Linked DNA regions of Homo sapiens: region 1 is linked to region 2. The links come from fine-mapping of genetic effects on gene expression. A gene starts in region 2. The other region holds a variant in brackets. All regions are shown on one strand. Distances are between the middles of the regions. Region 1 has its middle 38 kb from the start of PTGER2. Region 2 holds the start of PTGER2 (prostaglandin E receptor 2).

Region 1 (8,340 bases), 37 kb after region 2:
AGAGAATGGCAGATATTTCCTGCATTGAAAGTTGCCAAGTTGGGTTTATTTGAAGAGACCTCATAATGACAACTTTGGTGACACTCCCTAGTCAGGGATCTCTGGATAGGGCAGGGCCCAGAGACTTGGACATTTGCTCAGGACAGTGCGCGCTGCAATCGACTAAGGCTGCTTTCTGTTGCTGCCAAGCAACAAAATTCAGAACAAAAACTGTTACCCACTTCTGATTCATCCAATATTTTTTATAGTCCATGGGTTCATGTTACGTGCTTATTGGCTTAAATTTATTTATTTAAATAAATAAAATTATAAAGTTTAAAATAAACCTAAACTTAAATAATGGTTTAGGTATATTTTAAACCTAAAATATAAGCCATAATATTATAGGTTGGATCAATGTTTTTTAGACTACGTTTGCTATTCTAATCACAACTGGGAAAAAGTGATCCCTAGCCCATTTGCTTTTGAGGCTCTTGCCTGACACCAGTTCATGTTTTCTGAAGAATACCAAAAGGAAAATGTTACCACCACTCACTCATTTAACAAATGATCTGCTGTTGATTTTCTGGGCTGCAGATTCTGTGTTAAACATTTAAACAGCCACACGGAAATGACAACTTACTGACAAAGTTGGCTAAGAAGTTCCATGGTTCCACAGTTCAGATCTCTAAGTATGAGTCCACGTTGCCTGCTTGCTCAGCACACAGGAATGCTTAATTTACATGGTACTTTTTTAACTAATAAACACTTCTTTCTAATGCAGGGCTAACTTGCAGAAGCCTAACTTAGTATTCTTGGGTTTTTTGAACCATATCACAGGAGATAAAGCAGGGAATTCTTTTCCTAAGAATCACTGCAAATTTGTAAATATTGTATGTCAGTAAATATGGCATTAAGATGGAATTTCTGTTTGGTAAGATTAGTGACTGTTATTTTCACAGCATGTTCTGACATAAGAAGAGCATACTTATTTTTTAAGCAGAGTACACGATAAAATGTATAATCCTTTCCCAAATCTCATTATTCAAAATTTTCTAGAACACAGCCTCCTTTGTTAGAATATAACCTTGTGGGCAGGAAATTTATCCTATTTATTTGGCATACAGGTCGTATCTAGTTAGCAGCTGTTGTGAATAGTGCCAACGCCAGATAATTACATGGATTATGGACTGCATTATCTAATCAAGAATCAAGATGCATGCCCTATCTTTTGCTCTTAAAAGATGGCATGAGAAAAACAAACAAAAAAAATGGAAGTAAAATATTAGGATTCTAATAACTCCCCAATCAAGAAAACTGTGTTTTTGCACATGAAGAAATAAGTGTGGTCATTGTGATTTTGGAAAAATATATAATCTCACACTAAGAACAGTAATGTAAACAGCACATGGACAATTAGCTATAAATCTCTAGAAAGCAATTCTTTATACTGAAGGACAAGAACCAAGATATTAATATTTATGGGTACACACACACACACACACACACACACACAAAACAAGAAACATGATGTGGTATGGCCTTGCACCTTGGGTTTGGCTGGCCAACCAAGGGGAAAACCCCTGACCCAAGCTGTCCTGGGCACATTCTCTTTTTGGTATTTGGAAATGGAGACGAGAAAGCTGAGTCAGAATCTACGTGTGTGACAGTCCCTGCCATGTGTAAGCTTGGGCATTCTGGGGAGGCCATGTTTTGCTCTGTGAACTAAAGGGCAGAAAAAGCCATTCAGTAAAGAGAAACAAAGGAGATGAGTGCTGTATAATCTCCTGTTGCTGCTGTAACAAATTACCACAAACTTAATGGCTTAAGACATACAGATGTGTGATCTTACAGTGCTGGAAGTCAGAAGTCTAAAATTGGCTGGCCGTTTGCATTCTTTCAGAGGCGATAGGAGAAATTCTATTTCCTTGCTTTTTCCATCTGAGGCTGCCTGAATTCCTTGGCTTATGGCTACATCACTCCACTCTGCTTCCATTGGTCACATCTTCTCTGACTCTGACCTTCTTACCCGCTTCTAAGGACTCTTGTGATTACACTGAGCTCACCTGGATAATCCAAAATAAATTCTCCATCTCAAGATATTTAATTTAATTGCAAGGTTCCTTTTGCTATATAAAGTAGCATTTTACAAGTTCCAGGAATTAGGACACCTTATGTGTGGTGGGGGACGGGGGGTCATTATTTGCCTACCCTAAAAGCTCAAGGAGGAACAGTGATGACAGGTTCCAATAAAATGAAAAGTTCCAGTAGCAAGCCATTCCTGCATTTCTGCTCTTGGATGCCATGACACACTCTTATACTCCTGTAAGAAGCCTTTTGGGCAACAGCTGCCTGAGCGCTCTGTTGACATGAATTCTGAAGACTTATTGGAATGTCATGATGAGTGAATGAATGTCTGCCAGGGCACCAAACAAGGAGAGCTATCTCATATGTGTCACAAATTCGCCATCCTTGCTCAGGATTAGAAGTTGTAGAATTAGTATGGCTGGGTGTAAAGAATCATTTTGTTCATTATAAAAAGGGGGCTTAAACTATGAACATTTAAATCCTTGTTAATAGTACCAGAACCTTAATTAAGGGCTATTTGCCTCAGGAGCCTGTCTGTAATCTCAGGAGCTGAGAGTAGGTAGGCCACATGTTACCATGCACTAGATGCATAGCACTTAGGAAAAAAATCAACTTGATGATTTTGCTACATAACACCTCTCCCTTTGAACAAAACAGTTGCTGTTTGGGGTCCCAGATCACAAACCTTTGAACAAAACAGTTGCTGTTCAGAATCACTGATCACGGACCTTAGGATCGCATCATACGGCTCCTCCTAAGTAGCATGGCCACAGGCAGGAGGCAATCTGTCTCACTAGGCAAAGCATTTTTCCATGTCAGAGCATTTGCTCACAAGAGAAGGCCATTGGTTTCAGCAACCCAAAGTTTTCTTTCTGTCAGTTTTGTTTAGTGCCCTGTGCCAGGAGCTCACTTATGCCTGTATCCTTGGCTCAATTTAATAGGGAATTCTGCCCTGAGTGACACTTAATAACCTCAGTAACCGCTAGCTCCAGTGTTCTCAGTGACTTCATAGTGCTGAAATTACATCGTCACATTCACACCAGCTAGAAACAAAGATAAGCCCAAGATGGCACAGAATTCATGAGGAGCCGAAGGGTGAGCTGGAGGGTATGGCTACGTTTTTTAAACGGCATCAAGAACTCAACCTGTCTCTCAGAATCAGTGAGAGCACTTAAAAGGAGAGGAGCCAGACTAAATAACTCACCAGGCAGACCTCCTCTGCTTAACTGCCTTGAAGTTTTCCCTTCCTGAAGAATTCTTTCCTCTCTGAAGATTTAAGGAGGCACATGTGATCTAATCCCCCACACTAGCTTCTAAACCCTGTAGAATGAGTGTTTACAAAGTAGAATCTTTTACTAGATATTGTAAGAGAGATGTCTGTGTGTGTTTTGCCAAGAAATTAAAATCCAGTCTTTGCCAAGGAGCATAAATATACTTG[G/T]CAGAATCCAGAGGCTCAGTAGCAAAGATAAAAGTAATTGTTCCCTTCAGCCAATTGCTCACACTTATTACAAAACATTTATCTTCCCCCAGGGTGGATTTTCTCCTCTGATGCCGTCTGGCCCAGGAGGACATCATCCTCCGCCCTGGAGGGCCCATGAGATGCTCAGGGCCACATCAGTACATTTCTATGCAGCTCCAGATAGGTACAACCCACAGAGTACAATTACTGACCTGAAACATTTCATCTCTCAGGGATGTGATATTTTCCCCTCCAGTAATGATCAACTTTTAAGAAAGACATTTATATTTTAACTATGTCATTCTTTCCAGTGCTTTAAAACCTGATTTGATTTTCTTCAGCTCTCTGGGCTTTATATAAATGTCAGTAAACTGAATGGGCTGTCAACACCTAGATTAATGATTGGCTAACAGGAGATTTCTTGGTTTTATATTCAGTGAAGCAACTCAGGGACTGTAAGCACTGTGGTGCTTTTACGATTTTTCCCTTAACCCTTTTATGCCCCTAAAGACGTATCACCCTGGGAGAAAAACAACCACAGTGGTCTGATTCTGAGTAAAACCTCTCTGTTCTTCCTTTTCCTGTGCGGTGTGCCCCAAACCAACTAATTATCAGAAAACTAAAATGTTGATACACCCAAATTTAAACTGGTTAAAACTTTTTAACACAATTTGAAGGTCAAAACAAGTCTAACATTTCAACAAAAACTTGTGCCATCATCAGTAACTAAAATTTAATAATACTTGGCAGTGAATTCAATTTACTCTGTGTACTTGACAATACTACAGCTGCGTTTCTTTCTAAAATAGCCTCTAAAACGTTTCAAATAACGCAATTGCTCATTTGTTTAGAACTATAGTTGTTTGTGTACTTATCTTACTTTTCTCTTGAATTGTGTGTTCCTGGAAGGGAGACACTTCAAAGCATTGCACAAGGAAACCAAACATGCATCAGACATAATCCCTGTCGTTCAGGACTTGAAAACACAAGAGATGAGAACTTCACACAAACAGCCATCCCCATCTTCTAATGGTCCTCTTCTTTTTCTCCTTGCACCCCACTGCTACACTTGCAAAAAACACAAACATTGCTTATTATTTATTAAGTGGCTCTTTTCAAAAACTTCTACAAAAAAAGCCGTCCCTCCAGATCCTTTTGAAAAAGAGTAATCCACATTATAAATCATTCCTATAAATCATCATAATAACATATAATGAGGTTACTATTTGGGATTTTTTGAGCAGAGAGGTAGAGTAGAAAGAGCAAAGAAGGAAGTCTCTTCAGAGAATGACTAAAGTAAGCCATTTGGCAATGTTGTTAACATTGTAGCTCACATTTTATATAAAAGCTAGACACTACAGATTTTAGATTATAAATTATTTTTAAAAATCAAACATCCTGGGGAAATGTTTTTAATACATTAATAATATTATTGTCAAGGTCTTTTCCCACAAAACCACAAATAAAAGAGTATAAAGGTCAGGTGTGGTGGCTCACGCCTGTAATCCCAGCACTTTGGGAGGCCGAGATGGGTGGATCACCTGAGGTCAGGAGTTCGAGACCAGCCTGACCAACATGGAGAAACCCTGTCTGTACTAAAAATATAAAAATTAGCCGGGTGTGGTGGCGCATGGCTGTAATCCCAGCTACTCGGGAGGCTAAGGCAGGAGAATCACTTGAACCCGGGAGGCGGAGGTTGCAGTAAGCCAAGATCGTGCCATTACACTTCAGCCTGGACAACAAAAGTGCAACTGTCACATAAAAAAATAAAAAGGTATAAGATGCATGGTTTTGCACATTTCATGGCCTGACAAGTAGTTATACAAACCAGAATTTCTTTTAATAAACCAAGAAAGTCAAATTTATTCCAGGAAAAAAAAGTAAGATGCAAACAAGTCAAAATCTATCACTAAGATTTTTAGATAATAAAGACACTTAAGAGTAACTATTTTCCACCTTCTTTAGCAAACTTAGTAAATCAAAACTTGGATTTACACAAACAATAACCTATGAAGTGCCTTGATAATATATGAAGTGAGGCCACACGCAGTGGCTCATGCCTGTAATGCCAGCACTTTGGGAAGCCAAGGCAGAAGGATTGCTTCAGCCCAGGAGTTCGAGACCAGACTAGGCAACATGGTGAAACTCTGTCTCTATAAAAAATATAAAAATTAGCTAGGCATAGTGCCGTGTGCCTACAGTCCTAGCTACTTGGGAGGCTGAGGTGGGAGGATCAATTAAGCTGGGAGGTCGAGGCTGCAGTGAGCCATGATTGTGCCACTGCACTCCAGCTTGGGTGACAGGGAGAGACCCCATCTTTCTCTCTCTTTCTCTCTCTCTCTCACTGTGTGTGTGTGTGTGTGTGTGTGTGTAGTGAAATTTAAGTATCTAACTTTTCTAGTTTTACTAAGCAGTTTATAAATGTAATTTTAGGATTACATGTGCTAAGTAAAACAAAGTACATCATAACAGAAAAGAGCCTCCCTTATGAGTAAAACACAGATCTTCCAAGATTTTAGCAAAAAAGAAAAGTCCCCAGGAAGTCATTCCAGAATGGGAGTCTGCTAAGGTTTTCCTCATATTGATTCCCACTGAAGCTCTGACTCAAAAATGAACACTCTTCCCTATCCCCTCCCTGCCCCATTCCCTAGTTCCCTTTGACCCATTTAATATTTTCTTTTAGACTTATAAATGCATATACTTGTGTTGCTTTTCATTTTGTAGTGGTTTTTGCTTGATATATTTTAAAACTTAACTAAATAAGAGAGAACATAAGAAATAATTATGGAAAATCAAAACTCTAAAAACAGGCACATTTCCAAAGTACATATTTCTGATCCTAAAATAATCTCCCTCTAACCCTAAAGGACCAGTAATTCTTTGCAGTCACCTTACCCAGCTCCCATCTTTTCCAGTTCCCTGCATTTCCCAAGTTAGCTGAGAAGTCTTGGAATCTATACTAATAAGAACCAATCTTAGAAAATAGTTCTTAGACACAAAATTTGACCCTTTCCTTTTATTTCCTTTCTTTAAATTTCCTTCACCTGTAAGCCTGCACTTAAGCCCAGTTTCCCATCTAAGAAACACAACTGATTAATGGGGACATGGTGATTAGAATAATTAATTATCCACCTCTTTCTAGCCCAAAAGTTACAAGTTCAGTCCACCTTCGGAGGAGGCTGTGATTCAGTGGCAAGTCACTAAGTATACAGCCAAATGTGTGATATCCCTAAACTGGACAACAGCCATTGCATACACACAATGTTATGTCTTACTCCACACTACTGGCTTTGGAGGCCATGGAACTCAGGGGGACTCAGCCTGCTCAGGTCTTATCCACAAACCACTCCCAACAGCTGAATAAAAGGAAGACAAAGCCCCTCAAGACTGCAGGAACAGAAGACACAAACACTTGATGAGAAAAGAGCCATAGGGCTGACTATTTGAACCGCAAAGGAGTTGTGGGAGGAAGTCATTGAGAAATGAAACTCAGATTAACAGCCCAGGACAAACTGGAATTTGACTACATGTTTATGACTCAACATGGAATGCTACCAGATTTTTTTCATGGACGTTTATTCACATCTGAAACATAAACTAGCAAGAAAAAAATCCAACAACAAAAAAATAGCAACAGACTCCCAGTAATTAGAATAATTTCTAGATTTCTGCTTTTTGTAGAAAAACTACAGTTTGAGAGTAATACTGTGAGGAAGACAGCAGAAGTCAAAGATTTGTGAGTGGTCATTTTTTCAGATGGGTTCTCTTTTCTCTTTTTTGTTGGTGTCCCATCCATATCCCCTCAACATTCACCTCATCGGAAACTCCCAGCCCTTGTGGCTCTCCACTTTATGGCTTTCTTCCTAGTCAGGGAGTTAGCCACACTACAAGTCAAGTCACAAGTGTCAGGGTTCATGACCCTGAGTAATCCTCAGTCCAATGTAAGATGAGTAGTTGGTAGATAAATACTCTAACTTCCTCACTCCTCGGTTGGTATAACTTTGAGGCCGGTTCTACACTGGATGCCAGGGTTCCCCAGGGGGATTGAGCTCTGCCTGCCCACGTAGTAACCCCATAACACACCGTTTAAAGGCTGCCTTCCCCTCCCATCTTACTTCTCCAGTTCCCCATTGGTATTTCCTGGGATCATTTCCCTCCCCAAATTACTCGTACCCAAATCTTTAGAGTTTGTTTCTGAGGGGACCCAAATTAAGACAGGGTCTTGGCTGACCCTTGTCTCACTGAGCCAAACATGAATGGCATGGCAAATCCACGTAATACCATGAAACAAGTCCCTAGGTAGCGCAGAACAGGTGTGCTTCTGTTCAATCATCTCACATCTGGCATCATGAAGGCTCAGTGGGATGGGTAAAGGTGGACTGGTGCCAATGTAACCAAAGCATCAAGTTATGAAGATTATGTAAACATTGATTCTGCACAGCATTGGCGAGTGTGTGAGAAAACAGGCATTCTCACTCAACCTTCATTGAAGTGGGAAATGTTACAATTCTTTGAAGGCACTATCTATCAAAACTTTGAATGTGTGTATAGACTTTGGCCCCCAAACTCCTCTTTTAGGAATTTATTCTGTAAAAATACTTGCACATGTATGTCTAGGAATTTTCATCATAGCATATTTAAAATAACAAAACAATTTCCACCAAAAGGAGACTGAATAAATTGTGGTGCATTCATATAATGGAATAATTCATAGCCTTTTAAAAATGAGATAAATCTATATGTATTCAGGTAGAATATCTCCAAGATACATTTTAAAAATGAAAAAGTAAATTACAAAACATAGTCTTTTTTGT
Region 2 (8,278 bases):
TCTTTGCTTTCTCTTGAAGAATGACCTAAAGGAAGTAACCCACCTTCCACAGTCCTTTGAATTCATGGATACATAAATGAACACTATGAACTTTAGACTTTAAGAAGTGTATATTAGTCAGGGTTTGCCAGAGAAACAGCCAGTAGGATGGATATACATAAAGATATTTATTATAAAGTATCAACTCATGCAATTGTGGAGGCTGAGAAGTCCCACAATCTGTCATGTACAAGCTGGAGACCCAGTAAAGCTGGTGACAAAGTTTGAAAGTCTGGGAGCTGAAGAGCCAGTGGTGTAGATTCCAGTCCTGGTCTGAAGGCCTGAAAACCATAAGTGTCAGCGGCAGGAGATCAATGTCCCCACTCATGCAGTGAGGCAGAGAGTGAATTTCACCTTCCCCTACTTTTTTAGTCTATTCAAGCCCTAATGGATTGCATGAAGCCCACCAACACTGAGAAGGGCATGTGCTTTACTCAGTCCATCAACTCAAACACTAATCTCCTCCAGAAACACTTTCACAGACATACCCCGCCATCATGTTTAACCAGCTACCTGGGCATCCCATGGCCTAGTCAAGTCGACACATAAAATTAACCATCACATAGTGTTCCCCACATACAATGGCCCCACAAACAGGAACTAAACAATTAGCAAAGCTCTATGGCTCAATTCTAGAATTGAGGGTGTTAATCTGTTTTCTGTTAAGGAACTCTAGGCTCTATGTAAACTGAAACTGTATCAAAATGCTGACACTAAAATTAGAAATGGGAAGAAGTAGCTTTTAAACCACAAAATTAACTGGGGGTAACTGACAAGCAAGATTAGACTTGCACTTAAAGGAACAAACGTGATGGTCCAGTTGCTACGTAGCGACAGCAAACTTATCAACTCTCCTACTCAGCAATCTAGCAACAGGGAACACAGCAAACTGCTAAACCAAACACACACACACACACACACACACACACACACACACATATGTATGTATTCTGTCCAAATGCTGGAAGCAATTAAAAGGAGTAATTTGAACAAGCAATGCTGAGCAGCACAGTAATTAATAGGATACTGGCCTCCCAAGATTTATAGGGCCCACTCTAGTCTTCCTCTTGTCACATACCTTACCACAGGTGAGACACCCTCAGGGCACTATTCACCCAGACCCCATTACCCCTCCATTCTAGACCACCTTCCAGGTACCTGAGATCATGAAATTTCCTGCTCAAATGTTGGTCCCATAACTCGCTTCCAGGGCTTGATCAGGCATCTTCCCTAGGTCCATCCAATCAAGGGTCATTTGCATGTTTGAGATGCATATTCCCAGGACCAAGGTGGCTTTGGGGAGAGAGCTTGGTTATCAACAACTATAGTGTCCACATATTGAACTATACTGTCCACATATTGAACTATACTCTCCACATATTTCTGTGCAAGACTCCTTGTGGTGCAAGACTGAGTCAGGGGTTAGGAAGACAAGGGGGCAGGGGCCTGGGGGAGGATCTTCAACTGCACTCTTGCTCTCGTATTCACAAAAACCAGGGGCCGGCCTGCCACCAGGTACCCATCCAAAGAAAAGCTAGAGACAAATATATAGGAAAGGTTAAATAGTAGGTTTTTGTTGTGAGGGGCCTTATGAAAATTAAAAAGGTATAAAAATATTCGGAAAATAAGCACTGTGCAAATTCAGTGAATCTAAAATCCCTTATTTAATAGTAAAACTGCAGTGCAGAATTATGCTATAAATCATAGTGTTTTCCTATTAAGAAATACTTCTGATTTAAGTTTGATGTTTCCCCATTGCTTGGGGTGAGATGGGGGAATGTTGGAGTAGGGGAATAGTCAGAGATGGATGGCAAAGATTGGTAATAAGTTGTTACTGACCTGCAGAGTTTACAGCTTGAAAGAAAAACTGTAGGAGTTAAGATCCTCTTTCCTAGGAATCCATGCCATGAGAAGTTTAGGGATTGAAGTAGTGCCTGCTGACATGTGAAAACCGGCCTGTAAACTTTGCAAGCGATCCAGTAAATTATGCTTGTTCTAGTGGGAACCACCCCCCCCAACTCCGCATTCCAATCCCCAGGCCAGAATCATCAAAGTTGGCAAAAAATATTCATGGAGAGTAAGCAGGCTGTAGCAAGATAGGCTCTTCAGCAGGCAATCTTTGCTTCCTCCCACGTTATGACTGTCTTTCTTGCCAGTTCCCTAGGCAGATCAGACCCTTCACTTCCCAGTTGGCCTCCCTTCCCCAAGTGAATGTGACTTCTTACAGAACACAATTACCTATGTTGTCTGCCAAACTGGATTTTGTTTTGTTTTGTTTTGTGTTAAATATCAGCCCATTTTCACGACTCTGCAATTATGACAATATGTGGTAGGAAACCATTACTGTCAGCTCCAGTCTGAAACTGGCCACTTACCAATACACTTTGCCAGGAACAAGTCTTTCTGGATGGATACTACGTGGTTAACAACATGTAAAGATAAACGGCTAAACAAAATATCAACATTTTCTTACAAGGCTCAGCTTAAGGACAGAACAGTGATGTGCAATGGTTTTCATGTTGTATCCACAAACACAATTCTGTATAAGACACACTCCTCTTTTTTTAATGGTTGCTTAAACAAGTGGTTATCCGTTATGCTGTTGACATAGGAAACGGTGAAATGCTAGTAACCGAATCAAAGCGGCAGTGCAACAGGCCGCTCGGTGGTGCGCATTGTGTGGTTTGGTTCCTTGGATGGACACACTTGCTTTACGCTTCATCCCAATTTTTGTCCCAACCTCTTAGTGTATCTTCCTGGGAATAGTAAAAACAAAGCAAAACATTCTGGTCTTACTTCAAGCTGCCTTTGCACTGTTATTCCCTTGTTCCGCTCATTTCACGGGATTGGGTTCTCCTAACTTCATTGTTTGGTGAGTTGCTTTGCTTTGCTCGTTGCCCCGATCTTCTGTGTATTCTGCGCAGACCCCGCAAGTGCTCCTGCACTCCCTCCCAGCCCTCTGCTGGGGCTTAACGCTTCCCAGCCGAGGTCAGACTGCCGTGCGCTTCGAGTACCGGACCCCGAGGAAGCGAGAAACGCCGCTCCCGCCGGTCGCGGGCAGCTTCAGTACACCGGCAACACGCGCGCCTCTGCCCAGTGCCGCGCCCAGCGGGTGCTCAGACTCCTTCTCTCCCTCCCCGCCGGCGCGCCCCAGGGACTCGGAACGCCCCCGCGAGTGTGACGCGTCCTGCCTCCCCTGCAGCTCGCGGACACTCGCACTTGCAAGGCCTGGCCAGCACTCTTGGGCCCGCCCCCCGACAGTGCGGGGGCGGAGACGACGGCTCCCCTAGGCTCTGGCTCCCGGCCTTGGCCGGCGCGGGTAGGCGCGGGAGCCTCGAGCGCCGCTCGGATGCAGCAGCCGAGCCGCCACTCGGCGCGCGGCGGGAGACCCAGGGCAAGCCGCCGTCGGCGCGCTGGGTGCGGGAAGGGGGCTCTGGATTTCGGTCCCTCCCCTTTTTCCTCTGAGTCTCGGAACGCTCCGGCTCTCAGACCCTCTTCCTCCCAGGTAAAGGCCGGGAGAGGAGGGCGCATCTCTTTTCCAGGCACCCCACCATGGGCAATGCCTCCAATGACTCCCAGTCTGAGGACTGCGAGACGCGACAGTGGCTTCCCCCAGGCGAAAGCCCAGCCATCAGCTCCGTCATGTTCTCGGCCGGGGTGCTGGGGAACCTCATAGCACTGGCGCTGCTGGCGCGCCGCTGGCGGGGGGACGTGGGGTGCAGCGCCGGCCGCAGGAGCTCCCTCTCCTTGTTCCACGTGCTGGTGACCGAGCTGGTGTTCACCGACCTGCTCGGGACCTGCCTCATCAGCCCAGTGGTACTGGCTTCGTACGCGCGGAACCAGACCCTGGTGGCACTGGCGCCCGAGAGCCGCGCGTGCACCTACTTCGCTTTCGCCATGACCTTCTTCAGCCTGGCCACGATGCTCATGCTCTTCGCCATGGCCCTGGAGCGCTACCTCTCGATCGGGCACCCCTACTTCTACCAGCGCCGCGTCTCGCGCTCCGGGGGCCTGGCCGTGCTGCCTGTCATCTATGCAGTCTCCCTGCTCTTCTGCTCGCTGCCGCTGCTGGACTATGGGCAGTACGTCCAGTACTGCCCCGGGACCTGGTGCTTCATCCGGCACGGGCGGACCGCTTACCTGCAGCTGTACGCCACCCTGCTGCTGCTTCTCATTGTCTCGGTGCTCGCCTGCAACTTCAGTGTCATTCTCAACCTCATCCGCATGCACCGCCGAAGCCGGAGAAGCCGCTGCGGACCTTCCCTGGGCAGTGGCCGGGGCGGCCCCGGGGCCCGCAGGAGAGGGGAAAGGGTGTCCATGGCGGAGGAGACGGACCACCTCATTCTCCTGGCTATCATGACCATCACCTTCGCCGTCTGCTCCTTGCCTTTCACGGTAAGTCACTCCCTACGTTTCCACAGCCCGGCTCTGCTCAGCCTTCTCATGCTCTCCCCTGACGCCTCCACCCTTTCCACCGCCCTACAAACTTTTTGCAACTTGTAAAAATATGTCCTAATTTGTAAAGATCTGTAGCCTTCCCCACTAGTTTCCCCTCCTCTTTAGCCCACTTCCTTATCCTGGCTTATGGGCGTTGCTAGGCTAGAGTTTCTTATACAATAATACAGACCGTCCGAAAGGGAGTCCTGGGCCTCAGCTAAGCTAGCCAATCTCCTCATCCTAGCCCTGGGCAGTGTCCCTTTCTCGCTGTTGCCTATCTTGGCTTAGTAATTGAGAAAGAGGCAGCCCCTTCCACCTTAGGATGGCTGTCACTGTTCCAGCCTGACGACCTGGAGCTGCAGTTTGCTGCCCTGTACCTCTCATCCACTGGTGCTGGTTCTCCATGCTTGCCTTCTGTTCCTGCCAGGGCAAAATGTAGTACCCAACCCATAGCATTCCAGCTGCCATTGAAAATGGTCCCAGATGAGAAGGGTCCCTGAAGCAGAAGTTTAGAGCATTTGTTATTTGTCCTAAAAGTCCAACAAACATCTAGTTTATAGGTTTCCCAATTTATATATTTGAATGTAACTCTTTGTGGCCATGAAAGTTTATAAAACCATAATGATAACTAGAGGAAATACTTGGAGGAACATCTTGCTAAGCATTTGTAATATCTTGCAAAACACGCTCTTAATGTCACTGTCAGAAATACACACAGGTGTCCTTCAGCTTACAGTTATGCACTTGATGAGCACAAAGCCACAGGCAGGAATGGCTGGTCCCTCTCAGGAAGGGAAGAGTGGGGCTACCTGGGGAACTGAAGGACAAGAGACCAAGTCCTGGCATCGTGCTGCCTTGATTTGGGGCAACTTTAGCAGTTATTTGATGCTAACTAACTGCTAAATGATATGAGGCTGTGAGTTCAAGTCTCCTCAAGTGTAACGTTTTAGCTGAGCCTGGAATATGTCCGAGAATGTGCTGGCCTCTTACGGGGGCTAGGAATTGGGAGTTGTGGCAACTCCACTTCCTAATCTTCAGAAGAGCAAGACTGATGCTGCAGCATCAAAGCAGTTAATAGTGACTTCCACCTGCCACAATCTTGGAGAAAAGAGATGGGCAGTGCCTACTATTAACAGGTCTGACCTGTAAAAGCTGGAGGAGAAGTAACTTTATCCTATCTCCTGCCTCCATTACTGCTTCTTACATCTTCATGTGCTCATCCTCAGGGATGGGAAGGGACACAGGGTCCCAAAGGTCTGAATATGATTCTCTCCTCCCCAGCCCAGTTAACTCCCTTAGCTACGTTCTCTTCTCCCTGGTCCCCACTGTCCTCACCCTTCTACCCCATCCTCTGTCAGGGCAGAAACTGTTCTGAATTGGTTACACTTTGAGGGAATGAGATAGAATATTCAAAGACGCCCTCTTATAAAATGAAGTCGGACTGTGGGAGGCTGCATCTCCCATACCACTCTGAGCAGGGGAGTTTATGCAACAGAAACGCTGTGATGTAGAAACCCACATGGCTTATATGCTTTTGATTTATTTTACTGGTAGGAGCTTTTGATTATGTTAGGAGCTAAATCAGCTTTTGAAGGTCAGCACTAGGATGCAGAACATATATCTATGAAAGAAAGCATTTCAAGTTCCACCAAACAGCTTTGCATTCAGCTTGGGGATCAGAAACTATTCCTGAAAGACTGTCTTAGGGTGTTGGGAATTAAGATAATCAGTTCTTAGGGTTTTATCTGTCATTTGTGAGTATATTTATAAAAATATCCCCCACTATCAGCTACTTAAATAGCCTGGGAATGGGTTTGGGGTGATAACACACTTGTGAAACGATTTTTAGTCTCTTTCCTACACGAGCAAGAGGAAAAAGTTCTCCTCTTTGATCATGACTGACCCATTGCATAAACTGTATTTTTTTTAAATAAAGGTAGTGGTTTCCAACAGGTTGCCCTGTTTTCATGTAAATTGGCCTTTTACCATGAGAATTCCATCGTTGCCTTATGTTTTTGTAAATTCAAATATATGTGTGTGGATATAGATATAGATATTGTTTTCCCTCCCTCAGTTAATATTAGGCCAAGGGCTGCTCCAGAGTTGCCAGATAGAAGGGGCTTAGCCACAGAAATCTGGCTAAAAGGTGTTGAGGGAGTAGGAGCTTTGCTTTGAAGCTGTGTTTTTATTTCAATTTCCTGTTTATGGCTTAGGGGGAGCCAGATGGAGACTATGAAGGGGCTTTAGCTCCCCCAAACCACCTCTAAGCATTGACACTATCAGCAAACTGCTTTTGCTTCTGGCAAAGATTCCCAAAGAGCCGGAGAAAATCCTAGTGTGAACATAATCAGAAAGCCAGCCTCCCTGACTTCCATTGTTGGAGCTACCATGACACCATATTCAGATGAACTATACACAAAATGGAAATTGGAAGCATTGTCACCTCTTAGTAAGAAAATTTATATTGACCACTGATGGATTTTATTTTGTCAATAGATTATTGGGAATAATTGCTAGTATCTTTCACTTACATAGCACTTTAAGCTTTATGAAATGCTGTACTATCTTGATTTAAGTTATTTCTTGAAGGGCTTATCTGAAAATTCAAGCTCATGGCTACTGTTTGGTTCATACATTCTGCTGTTCAGAATCCTTGGCATGTGCCTCCAGGGGAGGTTGCTTTTTCCTCCAAGTCCTTTTATTCTACTTGGCCCACACTAAAATTGTGGTCAGAAGTGGCCTATACCAATCTCCCACCTGAAGCAGGAATCATTTCCACATGTCCTAACAGGGGGCTCTAGAAGCAAAGGTTTATGGTTGCCTTCAGAAATGTTTCTGTTTCTCTAACGGAGTGCACATGATCTGATAGAAATACAGTGTGAACCACAAATGCAAGCCACAAACGGAATTTTAAATGTTCTAGTAGTCATATAACAAAAAGTAAAAAGAAACAGAGAAAATTAATTGAATTACATATTTTATTTAACCCAATATATCTAAAATATTATCAATTCAAAATATTAGTTATGTAAAATAATTATTAATAAGCTATTCCAAGTAAGTTTCTTCCTTGTATCCCAGAAAATAGTAGCAATCTACTCTATCTCTTCCCACTCCTTCCTCAGGATAACAAGCTGCTTTCTTTGTCCCTCAAAAGTGGACCAAACCACTGGCAACAAGGAGGACAGCTGTACCCAGTGGGACACCAGTCTATTCCACAGCACTCCAGTAGTGGACAGAGGAGGGAAATGGGGGAATTCAGAAACCTAGAACTACTAATGTCAGGCATTGTCCCAAGGTTTGGGCAGGTTGGAATTACTGCTTCCTCCAAAGATGCCAGTCTAGGGCTTCCAAAATTTTGGAAGTAAAACTGTAGTTTTTTTTAAAGGCCCAGTCCCTTCAAGTGAAGTCCAATTCAACCTCATATGTCATTATTATCGACCACAAAATCAGACTTTTGAATGCTAACTTTTGCATTAACCCATTATCTTCACAGCACCGTAGGAAATAGTATGATGATTTCTATCGTACAGACGAGGCAAATGACTCACCCTGTGTCCCACAGCTAATGGGTGGTGGAACTGGGACTCAAAGCTAGGCAATTTAAGCACTGAGCCAATTAACCTAACCACAACACTATCCAAGAGAAAGTACTCATTTCAGGGGTAACAGATGAGAAGATTAATCTAAGATTTCATAAAAGAGCTGTGAGAATGTTATAAATATCTGGACCACTTTGCCTCTTAATTCCAACTAGTTAGCTTTAAAAATAAAATGGCAAAGACCTTTTTCTTCATGTCAG

The links.
Region 1: its variant is fine-mapped to the expression of PTGER2 in whole blood (TOPMed, PIP above 0.99).

Annotation. Positions count from the first base shown.
Region 1 is chr14:52,348,312-52,356,651 of GRCh38, forward strand. No RefSeq gene overlaps it. Among named protein-coding and RNA genes, the nearest start is that of PTGER2, 38 kb to the left of the region's middle. The variant G/T (reference allele first, on the strand shown) is at 3,506.
Region 2 is chr14:52,310,958-52,319,235 of GRCh38, forward strand. PTGER2 (prostaglandin E receptor 2) reads left to right here and starts at 3,355. Exons shown (of 2, transcript NM_000956.4): 1 at 3,355-4,434. The coding sequence starts at 3,592. RefSeq lists enhancers at 2,585-3,145, 3,146-3,705, 3,940-4,089, 4,110-4,249 and a silencer at 3,310-3,419.